Regions from separate parts of the Homo sapiens genome. Here region 2 is reported to be linked to region 1. The links are microRNA targets in miRTarBase. Many come from high-throughput screens and were not tested one by one. Region 1 holds a microRNA gene; the other region holds the end of a gene's coding sequence.
Evidence for each region. Region 1 holds the annotated microRNA hsa-miR-190a-3p (CUAUAUAUCAAACAUAUUCCU, at 4,100-4,120, opposite strand). A microRNA usually pairs through its seed, bases 2 to 8, with sites in the 3' UTR of a target mRNA and lowers its output. Matches are read on the target gene's strand: a 7mer-m8 pairs with bases 2 to 8, a 7mer-A1 pairs with bases 2 to 7 and ends in A, and an 8mer does both.

Region 2: miRTarBase lists APOOL as a target of hsa-miR-190a-3p. Seed matches in the 3' UTR shown: 7mer-m8 at 6,134-6,140, 7mer-m8 at 6,132-6,138, 7mer-m8 at 6,130-6,136, 7mer-m8 at 5,928-5,934, 7mer-A1 at 2,852-2,858 and 8mer at 1,147-1,154.

What each region holds. Positions count from the first base shown.
Region 1 is chr15:62,819,804-62,828,127 of GRCh38, reverse strand. MIR190A (microRNA 190a) reads right to left here and starts at 4,171; the gene lies at 4,087-4,171. It overlaps TLN2 (talin 2), which reads right to left. Exons shown (of 59, transcript NM_015059.3): 54 at 7,518-7,642.
Region 2 is chrX:85,086,490-85,094,133 of GRCh38, reverse strand. It overlaps APOOL (apolipoprotein O like), which reads right to left. Exons shown (of 9, transcript NM_198450.6): 9 at 819-6,544. The coding sequence ends at 6,456. SATL1 (spermidine/spermine N1-acetyl transferase like 1) reads left to right here. Exons shown (of 8, transcript NM_001367857.2): 6 at 1-6; 7 at 909-949; 8 at 1,573-1,850. The coding sequence ends at 1,743. Among named protein-coding and RNA genes, the nearest start is that of APOOL, 86 kb to the right of the region's middle.

The DNA.
Region 1 (8,324 bases):
TGGGTTGGCTCCCTTCCCCTGTTTCCCAGTTGGGAGAGTATTTGGGACCCCTTTATGTTGCTCTGATGGGTTTAAAGTTTCAGTAGCTATATGTCCCCTGGAAGAGGAAATGGTGGTGGTAGGGGAAGTGGTGTGGAAAGTGGAGAAGGTAAAAGGGACAGCCTTTCCTCATGTTTCTTTTGACATTTGGCCTTTCATGGATTCTGAGAACATGGTCTTCACACTAATTCATTCATCTTCTAAGCCTACTTCCCCTCCTAACCTATCTGATGGAGTCATTACAAGCACGTGATTAGTATATGTAAAGCATGGCTGACTCATAGGAGATGCTCAAAAACTATTAGCAATTTCATTATCAAAAATTGTTTTTTTCAGGTTTGGGGCTAAATTAATCTGTTTCTCTGTCTAAACCCTGTTATGTATCCATAATTCCAATAAAAATTCTTCTTGCTATTTCTGATTACAGCCTAAATTCATTATAAGTAAAACCCACAAATCAGTAAGCGTCAGGTACCAAACAGCATAGATGGGCACCAGCTCCTCTCTCAGCACCCAACCAGGAGTGGGACAATCCGGGTGGTAGTCACTGTTCTGTACTTTGACTATGTGACTGTGGAGTCTTCGCTGCCCTTTCTCCAGGTATCAGTTACTCAGTTTTCTGTCACTGGAGGAGCAACTCAACCTTCCTGGTCCTTTTGCCTAGACATGGACAGTTCCAAATTAAACTTCTCTTAGAAGGCGGTGACTAAAATAAGCAGGAACTACCTTTTCTCTTCTGATTTCTCTTGACCTCCTCCTCAATATCCTTACCAACATCCCCCACTGCCCCCGCTCCTCCTCAACGTCCTTACCCACTTCCCCTGCTCACTGTCCTTGTCAGGTCCTGGGCAAGTGTTGGGCAGGGGAAGAGAATGTCCTCCCATGGTCTTTTTCTTGGCCTTTTCTTATGCCCTGCAACCCCACAGCTCCTTCCGCCAATGAACTTGAAGGTGAAGGAGCATAAGGCATGCATAGGAGATGGCCAAAGGGCTTGCCTCCCTCCCTGAAAACTTACTTTGAGGGAATGCTTTGTTGAGAGCTAAAAACACAATGGTCGCCCTTCTCACAACTGGCTCCACAAACTGAAGAACCACCCGTGTCATCTTTCCAGTGGGGTCTCAGGCTTTGCTCTGTGTTACTCAGAGTCTTGCAGAATGCCTGCTACTAAAAATAAGGTCATAGTGCATCAGAAACTTTAAAAAAACCCTCTTGGATATATATTTTTTAAAGTGTGAACATTTTGCATTTAATTTAAATGTCCTTGAGGGAAAAAAGGAGGCCAGTGTCTAGAACTCCCACAACAGGAGTGAGGCATTTTCCTGCCAGTTGGAAGCCGGAGTGGAGCAGGCAGCCACATTTCTCTTTTTTTTTTGTTGTTGCAAGTTTGGCTGCTACTAGTTTGCTTCTGGTATTGAACTGAGAGGTGCCTTGAGGGAGGCCTTAGCCTGTATGCAAAGCCCCAAACTGTGCAAAGGTTAGATCAGCTTCTCCTCTGGAGGACCCATGGATGGGGTGGCTTCAGGACTGCCACCTTTATTAGTTCAAACAAAAGGTACACCTCCCAGAACAACTGGAACTGCTAAGAGCCAGGCATGGACAGCTGGCCTTGTCTCAGGGAAAGCTCCAGAGAGACCTTAAACAGGCAAAATGGGTGGCAGAGAAACTGCCAAATGGCTGTGCCTGTGACTGGGGAGGGACCACACCCTCCGCATCCGAGGAATACGCGCGAGTTCATGCAGTGTCTGCTGGAAAAGGTCCGCACCTGCATGATTAGTATCTTGGGAGTAGTTTTCCCATAGTATCCATTGCTTTACTTTTGTGTTCAAAATGGAAAGCAACGCCACTGAAATAATCTTTTAATCACTATTTCTGTTTAAGGGGCCCTTGAATGTCGATATAGAAAGCACAGACAAAAGATAACAGGGTTCTTCCCAAGCTGTATCAGATAAACTCCCTACATCTTAAGCCCCCTTTCTGTGTCTGTGAAGGATCTGACAAGGACCTACTGGTCTACCCTGGAGGGGAGTCTCCCATACTTGCTTTTCTTATTTATTTATGTTTTTGAGACCGAGTCTCACTCTGTCACCCAGGCTGGAGTGCAGTGGCACGATCCCGGCTCACGGCAACCTCCGCCTCCCAAGTTCAATCGATTCTCAGCCTCCTGAGTAGCTGGGACTACAGGCGTGCACCACCATGCCTGACTTATTATATATATATATAAATATATATATATATAATATATTTATATATATTATATATTATAATATATATTATAATATAATATATAATATATATTATAATATATAATATATTATATAATATATAATTATAATTATATTTAATATATATAAAAATATATTTTTATATATATTTATATTTATATATATATTGTATTTTTAGTAGAGACTGGGTGAAACCCAGCTGTTGGTCAGGCTGGTCTCGAACTCCTGACCTCAAATGATCCGCCCACCTTGGCCTCCCAAACTGCTGGGATTACAGGTGTGAGCCACCATGCCCGGCCCCATACTTGCTTTTCACACCCTGTATGCTCCTGGTCTGGAACCAATGAGTGCCACTCAAAGCCCAAGTGCAGCCATACAGAAAATGCTGTATTTGTCCTCCTCCTTCCTGAACAGTTGGTTCCTTTTTCCCTTCACCATATTAATCACTACAGAGAACATGCTGGTCAGTGACAAAGTCACCCAAAGAAACAAGAAAATCACATCAATTCAAACAACTGGGCTTCGTCTGCAGGTCCTTTTGAAACCATGTTTTTCTTTGTTCGTAATAACTTGCTGTCTCTTTTCCATGGCCATTTGCCATTTCAGTCAAACAATGTAACTGGACTCAAAACCAAAGCCGGTGTTCTCTAGCTGTGTGAAGGAGGGACTGATTGGGGCAGCATCTTGAAACCCGCCTGACAGAGCACCTGCCAACACACACAGATCGCTTCTCAATGGAGAAGGATTCCAGAGACAGGATCCATTATGTAACTCCAGAAGCCAGGACTCCAACATTACAGGACCCTCTCCTGTGTCATCACCTCTCTGATGTTGCTGTTGGTGACCCTGTCACTATGCATTCACCTGTAAGCAATGTGGCAATGACTTCTAGACACAGTAAGGGGAAGCTTTCATGACTACCTGTTTAAACCATTTGCTTACACCTTTTCTCCTCCAAAACATTGAGAACAGTAGTTCTCTTTCCAGAAAGCAGTGCTCACAAAGTATTTTGTTTGTTGAGAGAACTCAGAATGAACTCACACATACTTCACAGGCTTTTCTATAAGGAAGAGGTCAAAACCAACCAAAGAAGGCTGTTATGTACCAGAAAAAATGTTTTCTATATCATAATCCCAAACTTCCTGCCACAGTCAATTAGGCTATGATATTACTTTCCGATTGTTGGCTTATTCTAAATATTACCAACCTCCACTGACAAGTTAACCTATAACAGGAAATTCAAGAGTTCAGTCAACATTATATTACCTTCATGAGATATATTTAGTCCTATATCCAAGGTTTGTACAAAGCTCACTGACTCAGTATCCATGCAGCTGGTATGGAGGATTTGCTTTATACATTCTGTTACTGTGAGTGGAAAGGGAAGTCATAGAAAACTGATCTGTGCTCCTTGAATTTTTGCTGAAACCCTGACATGAACTTCTAAATTGAAGATCAGGATAAAAATGAACCAAAATGAAACATGAATCTAGATGTGTTTGAGGCTATAATCCTGACCTTTATTCTGTGTCACAGACATGGGTTGGAACCGTTTTTTCCACCAAGCATATTGAATTCCTTAAGGATTCATCACTGCACAAAACTAAGCCACACAGAATACCCCAGGCTCTTATGAAACATCAACACTTATTGTTTCTATAATAAGCAAGTAATCCAGTAATACTGATACAGGTCTCAAATGCTATAAGAAGAAATGGAAGATAACATGAATTGTAATGAGTGCTCCATCTTCTAAATCTACTTGTGATTTTAACGTGTTCTTTCCTGTTGCCTTATAAACTTTATTAGGAACCCCCGGAGACAGGGCAAGACACTGTAGGAATATGTTTGATATATAGTTGGATTAAATAACAACCTAATATATCAAACATATCACACAGAGGCCTGCAGAAAAGGCATCCAGGTTTGACTGAGCTCGAGACTAGGCACAGTATTGAAGGTTACGGCTGCAGGGGGTGGTCACTTTTGCAGCAACTCCGATAACTGTCTTTGGAGCACAAGTCTGCCTGCAGATGTGGAAACGGCGCCATTAACAATACTGTCAGCACATGCACCAGCGCTCACTGACATTCTCATCTCCCCAGGTGAACAGCAGATTCAACGGTGCATGTCTGGGAGATCCCAGGCAAAAAGTGATGCTTAAGTTTTAAGAGCCTGAGGTGGAAATGTACCAGAATCATCATCAAAGACCATGAGCCATTCTCCTTTAAAAACAGGCAACCTGAGACGGTGGTGAGCAGAGCATTTTAGACAAAATTACTGTCTCTCCCCAAACTCTTCCTGAAAGCAGTGTGAATACTCCCCAGAAGGAACACACATCCATTTTATACTGAAGGCATGTGTGTGTACCAGGGTAGGGTTATAGGGATGTAATAAGCAATTGTTTACTGACAGTACCCTGAGGATTTTTTTAAGGTTTTGGGAGAGAATGGAGAGAAGTGATTCAACTCAAAAGACTGGCTGATTTTGGTGCAGATTGTTGTTATTGTTTTTTAATTGGGGAAATAAATTCCTTTATAAAGGCAAGGAAGATATTTCATGCAAAAGTTATTGCAATGTGCCCTATTAGGCACAAAAACTATGGTTTGGGTTGCAGGTTTTCCAAAACAGTTTCATAGATAATATCCACCTCTGGCCATCAGGCAGAGAAAGACTTCAGACCATTGTGAAGCATTCTAGAAGTACCCATCACCCTTCCTAATACGATGGGAGTGAGCTAAGGTAGGAACCCTCAAACAAAGGATTCACATCATCAGTTATGTTAACCTTGACCTTGGCCGAAGGACTCCTTGGCTTTCCTGTAAAAACCCTCAATGTAAACACAAAGGCTATATGATCCTAGAGTACTGTAGGGAGTCCTCACAGGCCTACTTCAGCAGTCATTAATTTTTAAGGTGCTGTTATTTTTTAAACCTTTGTTTTATAAAATGTTAAAACACAGACCCTTCCATCATCCCAATTCCATCATCATTCTTGTACATTCCCTACTTATTTTCTTCATCTGTGAGTTTTTAGAGTTGTAATCATAATAAGTACATAATTCTGCATCCTTTCTGTTATACCATGAGCATTTTCTTCGTGCTACACAGTCCTAGCAACCATTATTTTTCATAGCTGCATAATATTATAGCTGCATAATATTCCTTCGAGGAGTAGCTCTAAGGGCACACATAAACTACAAATGGCCTTTGTGGGACTAGACAAGCCTTCTCTGACAATGGGGTGGGAAACAGGGGCTGGTATGGACTGAAACTGCCACCCAGGGCCATACATAGCCCTCCCAGCTGAGTGACAGTGGTCGGACCCTGGCAAGGTAATTCGCCTCTTGGTGCTTCTGATTCTAATGGACTTTTTCCAAGGATCAGATGAGTGACTCCCATAAAGTACCCAGAAGACTGCCTGGCACAGGCTTGGCAGCTGAACAACGCGAGCTTCCTGGTTTTCTTTCTTCAGGGGCCAGTGGAATAATTTTTATTTCAGGCATTTCCTAGGGAGTAAGTCCCAGACACACATTTTCAGTGATGATGGTGATAATAATGGTGATATAGTTACTATCTACCAAGTCTCACTGTATGTCAGGCAGTGTTCTTATACTATCTTATTTAATTATTATAACAATAATCCTATGGGGTAGGAACTTTAATAATTTTGTTTTCCCATCTGGAGTCGTGAAGTGAACGACCAGACACGGGGAAACCAGGACTCAGACAAGAGCTCAGAAGGACCCTGCGGAAGGACAAAGGGAAAGACATTGAAACAGGAGCTCTTAGAATATGGTGAAGTGTTAATGTTAAATTAGCACCAGGCTAATTCTCCAGGAGAACGAATGTGTCAACTGACATGGCTTCGGCATTAGCGGACAGAGCCCTCCCCAAGAAAGGCCATCGTGATAAATCAGACAAGGAAATGGAAAAACATCATGCACCAAACCTCTAAATCTTAGTTAATGGTTGACTCTTAAGTTTAAAGTACACTTTTCATTCACGATTAACTTGACTGACAAAGCAGAAACAAAGGCGTAACCAGAAAATGGAGTTGTCCCAACACCCACACTTGGCTCTTACTCTGACAATATCAGGCAACCCAAGACTCCCAGGTAGAGTCCAGCAGAGAGAGCCCTGGTAAACCCCACAATCAGAAGCCCAAATCCTTAAGTTACATCTTGATGAGAAAACGTTTAAGTGCCTTTACCAAGTCCAGAGCGACTATTAGGAGGTTGGTTCTAAGCACTCGAAGGTTTTAATAATGTTCCCAAGCTGAACAGACTCAGTCTGTGTTTATTTCATACACTACACTGGCCCAGGCACTGCTTTTGAGTGGTCTGCTCTGTTTCAGGGCCCAGACTCCATCCCTTGGTCTTACAAAAATAGGTAAATTTTTAGGTATACCTAAATTGGTGGAATCCAGCCCTTTTTTGAGGGGAAAAGCCAAATATTATTTCCTAGTATATCTGGGTCCTTGGAAATAGATGAGTTACATGCACCACCAGGGACTTACTTGAATAGGAAGAAAAACAGGCCGCCTCTGGTTCTACCATTTTCCTGCTGAAGACAGCTATGGAAGGTGGGGTAGGAGGTATTAGCTTAACAGGATTGGGGCTTTGCCCCTGGAGACAGCACTAGCTTGTCATCCTTTTATTTAGAAAGTGTCCTTCCTCCTGCCTAATCTAAAAGTATCTCTTTCCTTTAAATGGCTATTTCTCTTCACATATACCTATAATCTTAAGTTTTAAACATTTATCTACATGACAAACACAGAAGGAAAAAACATACCAGCTACCCATCCTCTCCAGCATATACTGACAAAGCCTGGAGTGGGTGCACTTTTGAAGTTCTCATTGCCCTCTGATTCCCAGCAGTGCTATTTCTTTGTAAAAAGCAAAAGAGAAACCAGAAAATTGGAGGCTAACAATCTCCTCTCCAGTAACAGCAACTTCTGACAGAAAGCATCCAACACCTGCTTTAGATAATGAACTAAATCAAGACTGCAAATGCCCCAATTCTTCCTTTGGATACTCAGAGGAATTTTTCTGGGTGGTTAACTTGAAAGACTCATCAGCCATTTTTTTACCCCCATACTCTAAAGCAGTGCCGGGCAGGTAGATCCGGTTTTCTGCTTGCTAGTCTGACCATAAGGAAGGAGCCAAGCTCCCTGCAGCACTCCTAGCTCCATTTCACAGCCACCCACTGGAAGAACCCACTGACATCGGACAGCCAACCATAAATGAACACTTACTTTTGGTTTTGCTCTTGGCTTCAGTTGCTCTAACTTCTTAGCAGCAGCTTCGATGGATGCTGCAGCCCCCAGTAACTCTGTTTCTGCAATGACAGTTGGGTCTTCTGGATCCACCCACTCTGTTCCTAGAATCAGTCCAAAAGAAGGTGATTCTTCATAGCTGCAGACCTCAGGGCACTGGCTTAATTAAAAACACTATCTGGATTTGCATGCATGAAGGCTCCAGGAGCCTGACCTGCATTGTCCTAAGGAACCTTCCTTCCGTCTCTCATAAAGGCCATCTGGATGGGGGTGGGGGGTGGGGGTGCTAATCCTGGTTTTCTAAATCAGTTGCATGTATGGCCCTTCCACAGAGCAGTCACCAAGCAGCTTCAAAAATGATCTCACGGACCAAGGCTTGAGCTTTGCTCTGACTTTGAACTTAAAGCTCATGAATCTAAGTAAGCATCCTCAGGAGACACTACACTATGCTGTACATCACACAGGAATTTGCCATTCTCTTCTCCCTGGAACCCAGGAGGACTGACCCCTCACCTTAATTCAAAGTAAAGGAAATTGGTGAGAAGACCTTTCCCAGGTGGGTTGATTGCTTCTATGTAAACATAAAGGGTGTCCAAACAATGTTTTCAGGTAGCATCATTTTCAAAACATGAAGTACTATTTGAAGGAGAATAAATATCCTGATGAATGAAAATGCAGACAAAAAAGAAATGGGGAGACTCCAAGGAAAGTGAGTAGGTTCTAGGTGGAGGATACCATTTAAGTAGAAGCACTTAATACAAAGACTAGAGAAAAGACTTGCTTCAG
Region 2 (7,644 bases), not on the chromosome of region 1:
ACCAAGGTAAAACTAAAATTTATGATATTACTTTTAAATACTTTAAAAATTAAAGTGACATATTTTAAGGAGATAGGGCTTTACTATACATACGGTGTTTTAGTTAATGTAACTTATTGCTACTTAATGAGTTTGATCACTATCCTAATGAGTTTGATCTAATCTGTGATTGTGAAGACTCAGTCACAGATTAGAAAAACATTTTATTAGTTCCTCTCAAGGTTTGAATAAGCCAAGCTATCACATGGCTATATATTTTTTTATTTTGTTTTTGAGACAGGGTTTTCTGTCACCCAGGCTAGAATGCAGTGGTGTGATCACGACTCATTGTAACCTCAACCTCCTACACTCAAGCAATCCTCCCACCTCAGCCTCCCAAGTAGCTGGGGCTACAGGCATGTGCCACAGCACCCAGCTAATTCTTTATTTTTTGGAGAAACAGGGTCTGTGTTGCCCAGGCTGGTCTCAAACTCCTGGGCTCAAGTGATCCTCCTGCCTTGGCCTCCCAAAGTGCTGGGATTACAGGTGTGAGCCATCGTGCCATCACATGTGTGAGCCATCGTGTGAGTATAGGCCACACAGCTATACTTTTATCTTTAAAAAATGCTTTCACATTTTAGGTGGTTTTCAGTAAAAACAGCTAAGAAATATACCGTTATAAGACAATAGTGGCAGAGACTCACTTCTTCACTGATCTTTAAAATAAACCCAAACTCTTCTATGACCTTTGGTACGTCATTCCAATTAGGAAAAAGGGATATGAAAGCATTCACGAGTTGTGTTTCCAGAAGCTATTAATAATATACAAAAAACAGATACAGAGTTTTAGATATTATTTATTTTAAACTAAAGCAAATAACAAGTTAAGTGAAATTTGCAGTTTTCACTTTGCATTGTCTATTTAAAAGGCCTAGGTATTGGAGCTGAAATGCTGAAGAGGCTAAGTCAGGTATGTATTACAATTAGTATTGATATTCTATACATTAACCTTTTCTTAATAAATATTCACAGGGCATAAATTAAATCATTAATCTCACCATTTGAACATAACCCCAACATATACTTCAAATTTCTACCCAAATTAAACTGGATTTTCAAATCAGATGATCATATACAGTATATGAATTATAGTCAATTAAAATTGATTTATATATAATCCACAACCACACTATACACCCTTTTTGCTATCAAGGGAAAGTAAGAAGGAGGGAGATTAGAAAGCATTTTTATTCAAAAACACAGGCTCACAGTATGAATATTACAAGACTATAAAAGCAAGATCTTCTTGTATTTTGGAAACATATGAGAACATGTGTTCTTTTAGGTACACCTTTTCTGTATGATAAAGGCTTTGCAAATCAGTTTTGAGATTTTAAAGAGGGCTTTAAAGCTCAGAACAGTGAGACTTTTTTCTTTTTACAGCTATAGAAAAGTTCAAAAGGTAACTACTATATTTGGAAGTATTATTCACACATAGTGTCTTGCATAGAGTAGACCTTCAATAAAATATATGTGTTAACGAAGATTATACTTTCAAATGAAAGTAATATTTGCTTGTTTGTTTTTAAACAGATAGCCATCACAACTCAATGTAACTGCATGCACTTTCTTGTCGTCATTTGGAACCAGGCTTCTATCAACTACTATACTAGTCGAGGGGCTTTAGACCTTTCCTCTGAGGAGGGCTGGCATCTCTTCAGGTTTAACAGAGAAGAACTCCTGGACATGGCATGGGAAGAATGAAAGAGGCTTTGTAACAACTCATCCCAACACAGCCTCCAACATTTGACTGTCACCTGAGTCTAACAGCAGTTTGACTTTGTTGTACAATACAGCAAGTGATCATCACATTCTTGTTTGAGCAGATCTTTTATTTTGAAACAGATTTTGTAGCTCTAGTCAACTTTCCATTATCCAAACCAATATTCTAACGGCTAGTAGCAGTAGTGATAATCCAAAAGAGCAGATAATTTAAAAGTCACTTATACTTAGCTTTGCGCTATTTTTTACCTATCATATTTCATCAAAATTAAGGTGCTTTTCACAATTTGACATATCTGATGTCGGGATAAATGTAATGATCAACTGGCAGCATTTTTTGTTTGTTTGTTTTTAGAGGCAGGATCTTGCTATGTTGCTCAGGCTGGTCTCAAACTTTTGGCCTCAAGCAATCCTCCCACTTCAGCCTCCCAGACATAAGCAACTCTGCTCAGCATTTTTTTTTAAATTAAAGGTATATGATATGCCTTAGATTTGATGAAATATGGGTGTTTGAATATATTCAGATCTGAGGTTTAAAAAAATTCATTTCAAATACTGGAGATAAATTCTGAAGAGCTTACTTATGAAAAACTAGCAAGTAAACTGCTTCCCTACCTTGAGCAGCTTAAGTACCACTGCCTCCTTGACATCATCCCAGTACTACATTCTATCTCTGAACATCCATAGCTCTTTGGTTGTACTTATCTTAGGGAAGATACCACATACAACACTATATTTCTATGTTTCTCTCTTTCCTAGTAGAGTATAAGTCCTTTGAAATAATTCTAACTTTTGTGTCCTGTGCTGCAACCAGCATAGCAGAACGTGTGAGTTCCTACTACCTACCAGGCACTTCATGGGCATAGAAACTACACAAAAATTATTCAGTGATATCCACAAGGAACCTTGTCTGTGAGAAAATATTAATTACATAAATTGTGTAAAGTACCATATCTGTAAATACCAGCTATCACTTGCTAGTTTTTCATAAGTAAGCTCCTCAGAATTTATCTCCAGGATTTGAAATGAATTTTTTAAAACCTTGGATCAGATCTCAAACACACTCATATTTCATCAAATCTAAGACATATTATATACCTTTATTTTTTATTATTTATTTTTTGAGACTGAGTTTTGTTCTTGTGCCCAGGCTGAAGTGCAATGGCACGATCTCGGCTCACTGCAGCCTCCACCTCCCGGATTCAAGTGATTCTCCTGCCTCAGCCTCCCAAGTAGCTGGAATTACAGGCATGAGCCACCACGCCTAGCTAATTTTGCACTTTTTGCGTGTTTTTAGTAGAGACAGGGTTTCACTATGTTGGTCAGGCTGGTCTCAAACTCCTGACCTCAGGTGATTCACCCACCTTGGCCTCCCAAAGTGCTGGGATTATAGGTGTGAGCCACCATACCCGGCCATACCAAATACCTTCATTTTTTTAAAAAAGGCTGAGCACAGTCACTCATGTCTGGTTGGCTGAGGTGGGAGGATCGCTTGAGGCCATGAGTTTGAGACCAGCCTGGGCAACATAGCAATACCTATCTCTAAAAGACAGAACATCTAAATTCTACCCTGGAGGATTGAGAAAGGGAACATGACACTGGAATTGGACTTGTAGGATGGGTAGAAGTTAGAATGTAGAGCAGGATAAGATGGAAGAACATTCTAAGAGGACACACTAGCACAGGCAGAGAAAGAGGCAATAATGAGCAAAGCATGTTCAAGAAACAAATGGTATGTCATAAAGACAATATAATACACATTAGCAGTAGGGTGGGTAAGGAGAGGGAAGATAGGATTAGAAGGTAAGCTGGAATCAGATATGAAGGGCCTTGTATATCAGACTAAGGAGTTTTGATTCTGCAGGCAATGATGAGCCACTAAAGATTTCAGAAAGACAGCTATTCATTATAGTTGTCAAGACAACTATATCATAATAGACAAATGGGTTAGAAGAATAGGGTAGTAGATACTGTATGTTAGCTTTAATTCAGCACCTGTTCCCAACCCCTTACCCCTTGCCTTCCTCACCACAGGGGAAAAGAAACATGATTTCCCTATTCCCTATCTTCCTTGAGCTAAGTGTGTGGCTATATGACAAGTACTGGTTGAGATATACACAGAGGTCTTCTGAGGAGATTCTAAGAAAGCATTTACTTTTCTGGTAAAAGGGAGTCAGACGCATCTTGTGTACATTTTTATCTGCTATTTCCTACTTTGAATGTGTATCTGCTCCCTGGAGGTACAGCAGACATCTTGTGACCATGAGGTGACAAACCAGCATGCTGTAGAGGACAGAGTGGAAAGAGAAAAAGTCTACGTCCTTGATAGCACCAATGAGCCACTGTCCCAACCCTATACTGCCTAATTCTAGGCTATAAATAGGATAGGCCTTTTTTTTTTTTTTTGCTTAAGCTAATATTAAATATTTGTTTAACTAGTTTACTGTCACCTGCAAGCAGAACATATTCTGAAATGAGAGACAGCAAGATTGACAGTGAGCAAATTAGCCTGAAGGCTATTACAGTAACCCAGAAAAGTGATGATGATGACTTGAGGGAGAGTAATTATAGGATTAGAGAAGACAGAATAGATTTGAAGGAGCGGGAGGTAGAGACAATTTTGTTTTAGGCACATTGACATTGGCATATCTATGGGATGTTAGGTGAATATAACTAGTAAGTAGAAATAAAGGTCTACAGCACTAGAGAGATATGGGGGTTGAAAATATGAATAATAAAACAAATGGTGCCTGAAGCCAGTGAAGTCTGTTAAATGAAAAATGAGTGTGCATATAGAATGAGAAAATAGGACTAGGGATGAAACTTGAGCAGCCTCAGCATTTAAGGGATTCAGAGCAAGAGAAGAAAAATGAAGAATAACAAAAGCAGGAAAAATAGAGAGCAAAGGGATAAGTGAGTCTCAAGGAGAGAGTGGTGAAGAGTCAATAATGACATAAAAATTCAAGTAGGGGCTGGGTGCGGTGGCTCACGCCTGTAATCCCAACACTGTGGTAGGCTGAGTCGGACAGATGCTTGAGCTCAGGAGTTCGAGACCAGCCTGGACAACATGGTGAAACCCTGTCACTACCAAAAATACAAAAAATTAGGCATGGTGGCGGGTGCCTATAGTCCCAGCTACTTGGGAGGGTGAGATGGGAGGATTGCTTGATCCTGGGAGGTGGAGGTTGCAGTGAGCTGTGTTTGTGCCACTGCACTCCAGCCTGGGCAACAGAGCAAGACCCCATCTCAAAAAAAATTAAGCAGGTATGGAGGCCAGAATGTCACAAGACAGAGAGGACTTGAAAGTAGGGAAAAAAGGGACAATATTTACTTTTGTCAAAAAGTAACAATTACTTTTTAAAGAAGTATAACAATTATAGGAAGGAGAGAGAAAAAATAGTTCAAGGGAAGAGGCCAAGTTAAGGAAAGGTTTTTGTCTTGTTTTGTTATTGTTGATTTAAGACAGAGAAGACCTGCAGCTATGTAGAGGTGGAGGAAAGAAACTACAGTATCTACTACCCTATTCTTCTAACCTATTCTTCTAATTTGCTCACTGTAAAAAGAGAAACCGAAGACTAGAAATTAAACAGGGTGGAATATGGTCTTAGATGGGAAGGAATGAGGTCAAGAACACAAAGAGAAGCATGTCTTAGAAAAGGGGGATGCATGGCTGAAAAGAGGTAAGTCTTGAAGGTAGATGGGAAGAAGTTTTGGGAATGGTCATATCTAATAATTTAGTTTTTTCTCTATGAAATAGGAGGCACAGTCAACTTTGACAGTTCTAAGAGGCTTGAGAAGAATAAAACGTTTGTAATACCTCTTCCAGGGAACACAATAGTAAACCACTTAGGAACCAGTAGAAGGATTGCTAAGCAGTATTAGGAAGCCTGTGTAGCATATGGCCCTCTCAAATAGGTAGAGATGTTTTTAGATATTTAAGAGGAATTAACATTAACAAAACCAAGGGACAAAGCCAAGCTCAAGTCCCATAAAACATGGATATTTTATTCCAGCTCTAGGAAATGGGAAAAAAAAAAAAAAAAAAAAAAAAAAAAACAGAGGGAAACACACCTTTCCATACACCATTCTAATTTAACTAGCATTAATCTGGGAAAGCTAGAGCAGAAATATATGTTTATATGTATAAATATGTATGTATTTATACATATATATGTATAAATATGTATGTATTTATACATATATGTATAAATATGTATGTATTTATACATATATGTATAAATATGTATGTATTTATACATATATGTATAAATATGTATATGTATTTATACATATATGTATATGTATTTATACATATATGTATAAATACGTATTTATACATGTATAAATATGTATGTATTTATACATACATATATATATATGTATTTTTAGATTTTAATCTCACTAGAATTCATGTCTTCATTTTTTTTTAAGTGCCCTTAAAGGTCATCAAATGCAAGCTAATACTTCTACCTAAGTCTCCTCATCAATCATTTAATATTGTTTACACTGCATTCACAGTTTGTGTGTTAACCACTTATGTAATTTATCAAATGGCATATTTGGAAATGTAAGGGAGAAACTTGGTTTAGGTAATACTCTATGTATCAGTTACCCATTACATGATTTATTTTCATCATTATTTGCAACGCCACACATCTTGTAGTTTTCTGTGTAGTCTCTGCATGCAGTCTACTTCAGCTTCTAGTGCTGTACATATCTATATCTTCTGGGTGGGACTGCCCGTGATCCATGAGCTTGGGGTCAGGCATAAACTGGGTTGCACCTGATAAAGTATTAAAATGAAAAGAAAAATTAGTCACTTAACAAATTTATTTTTGATACTGGGAAGACAGCAGCGAACAAACCAGATAAAAATCTCTAGTGACACAGACCTAACATTTGAGTTAGGTGAGACAGACAAACTAATTAAATATATATCAGATGGTGGTTAAGTGCTATGTGAAAAAATGAAACAAGGAAGGATATATGGAGTGCTTAGGTGATTTGTAATTTTAAATAGGGCAGCCAGGGAAAGCCTTCTGGAAAGGTGATACATGAGCCGAGAACTGAAGGAGGTGAGGGTGTGCACCCTATAGATACCAGCAGGCAATGCCTTCCAGGATGAGCAGACGGCAAGTGTAATGGACCTGAGGTATGTCTGAGGAACCAATATGGTTGAAACACAGTAGACAAATGTGGTGTATGTAGGGGTGGCGGCAAGGCAGTGAGATGATAGGAGATGTGATCAAAAAGACAATGGAAAGCTAGGTCACACAGGGCCATGGTAAAGATTTTGGCTTTAAGTGAGATGAGAAGCTACTGGACAATTTTGAGTAGAGGAGTGAATGATGCTATGTTTTTAAAAAGATCACTCGGCCGGGCGCGGTGGCTCACGCCTGTAATCCTAGCACTTTGGGAGGCCGAGACGGGCGGATCACGAGGTCAGGAGATCAAGACCATCTTGGCTAACACGGTGAAACCCCGTTTCTACTAAAAATACAAAAAATTAGCCGGGCGTGTTGGCGGGCGCCTGTAGTCCCAGCTACTTGGGAGGCTGAGGCAGGAGAATGGCGTGAACCCGGGAAGCGGAGCTTGCAGTGAGCCGAGATCGCGCCACTGCACTCCAACCTGGGAGACACAGCGAGACTCCGTCTCAAAAAAAAAAAAATCACTCTTGGCTATGGGGAAAAGAAACTATAGGGAAACAAGGGATAGAAGCAGGGAGACCAGTTAGAAAGCAATTACAATACTCCAGAAGACATGCTGAGGGCTTTAGTTAGGATGGTGGAAGTAGAAGTGGTGAAAAGGTACCAGATTCTGGATAATGTTGAAGGTAGAATAGACAAGATTTCCTAAATGGACTGACTATGTCTTGTGAGAGAG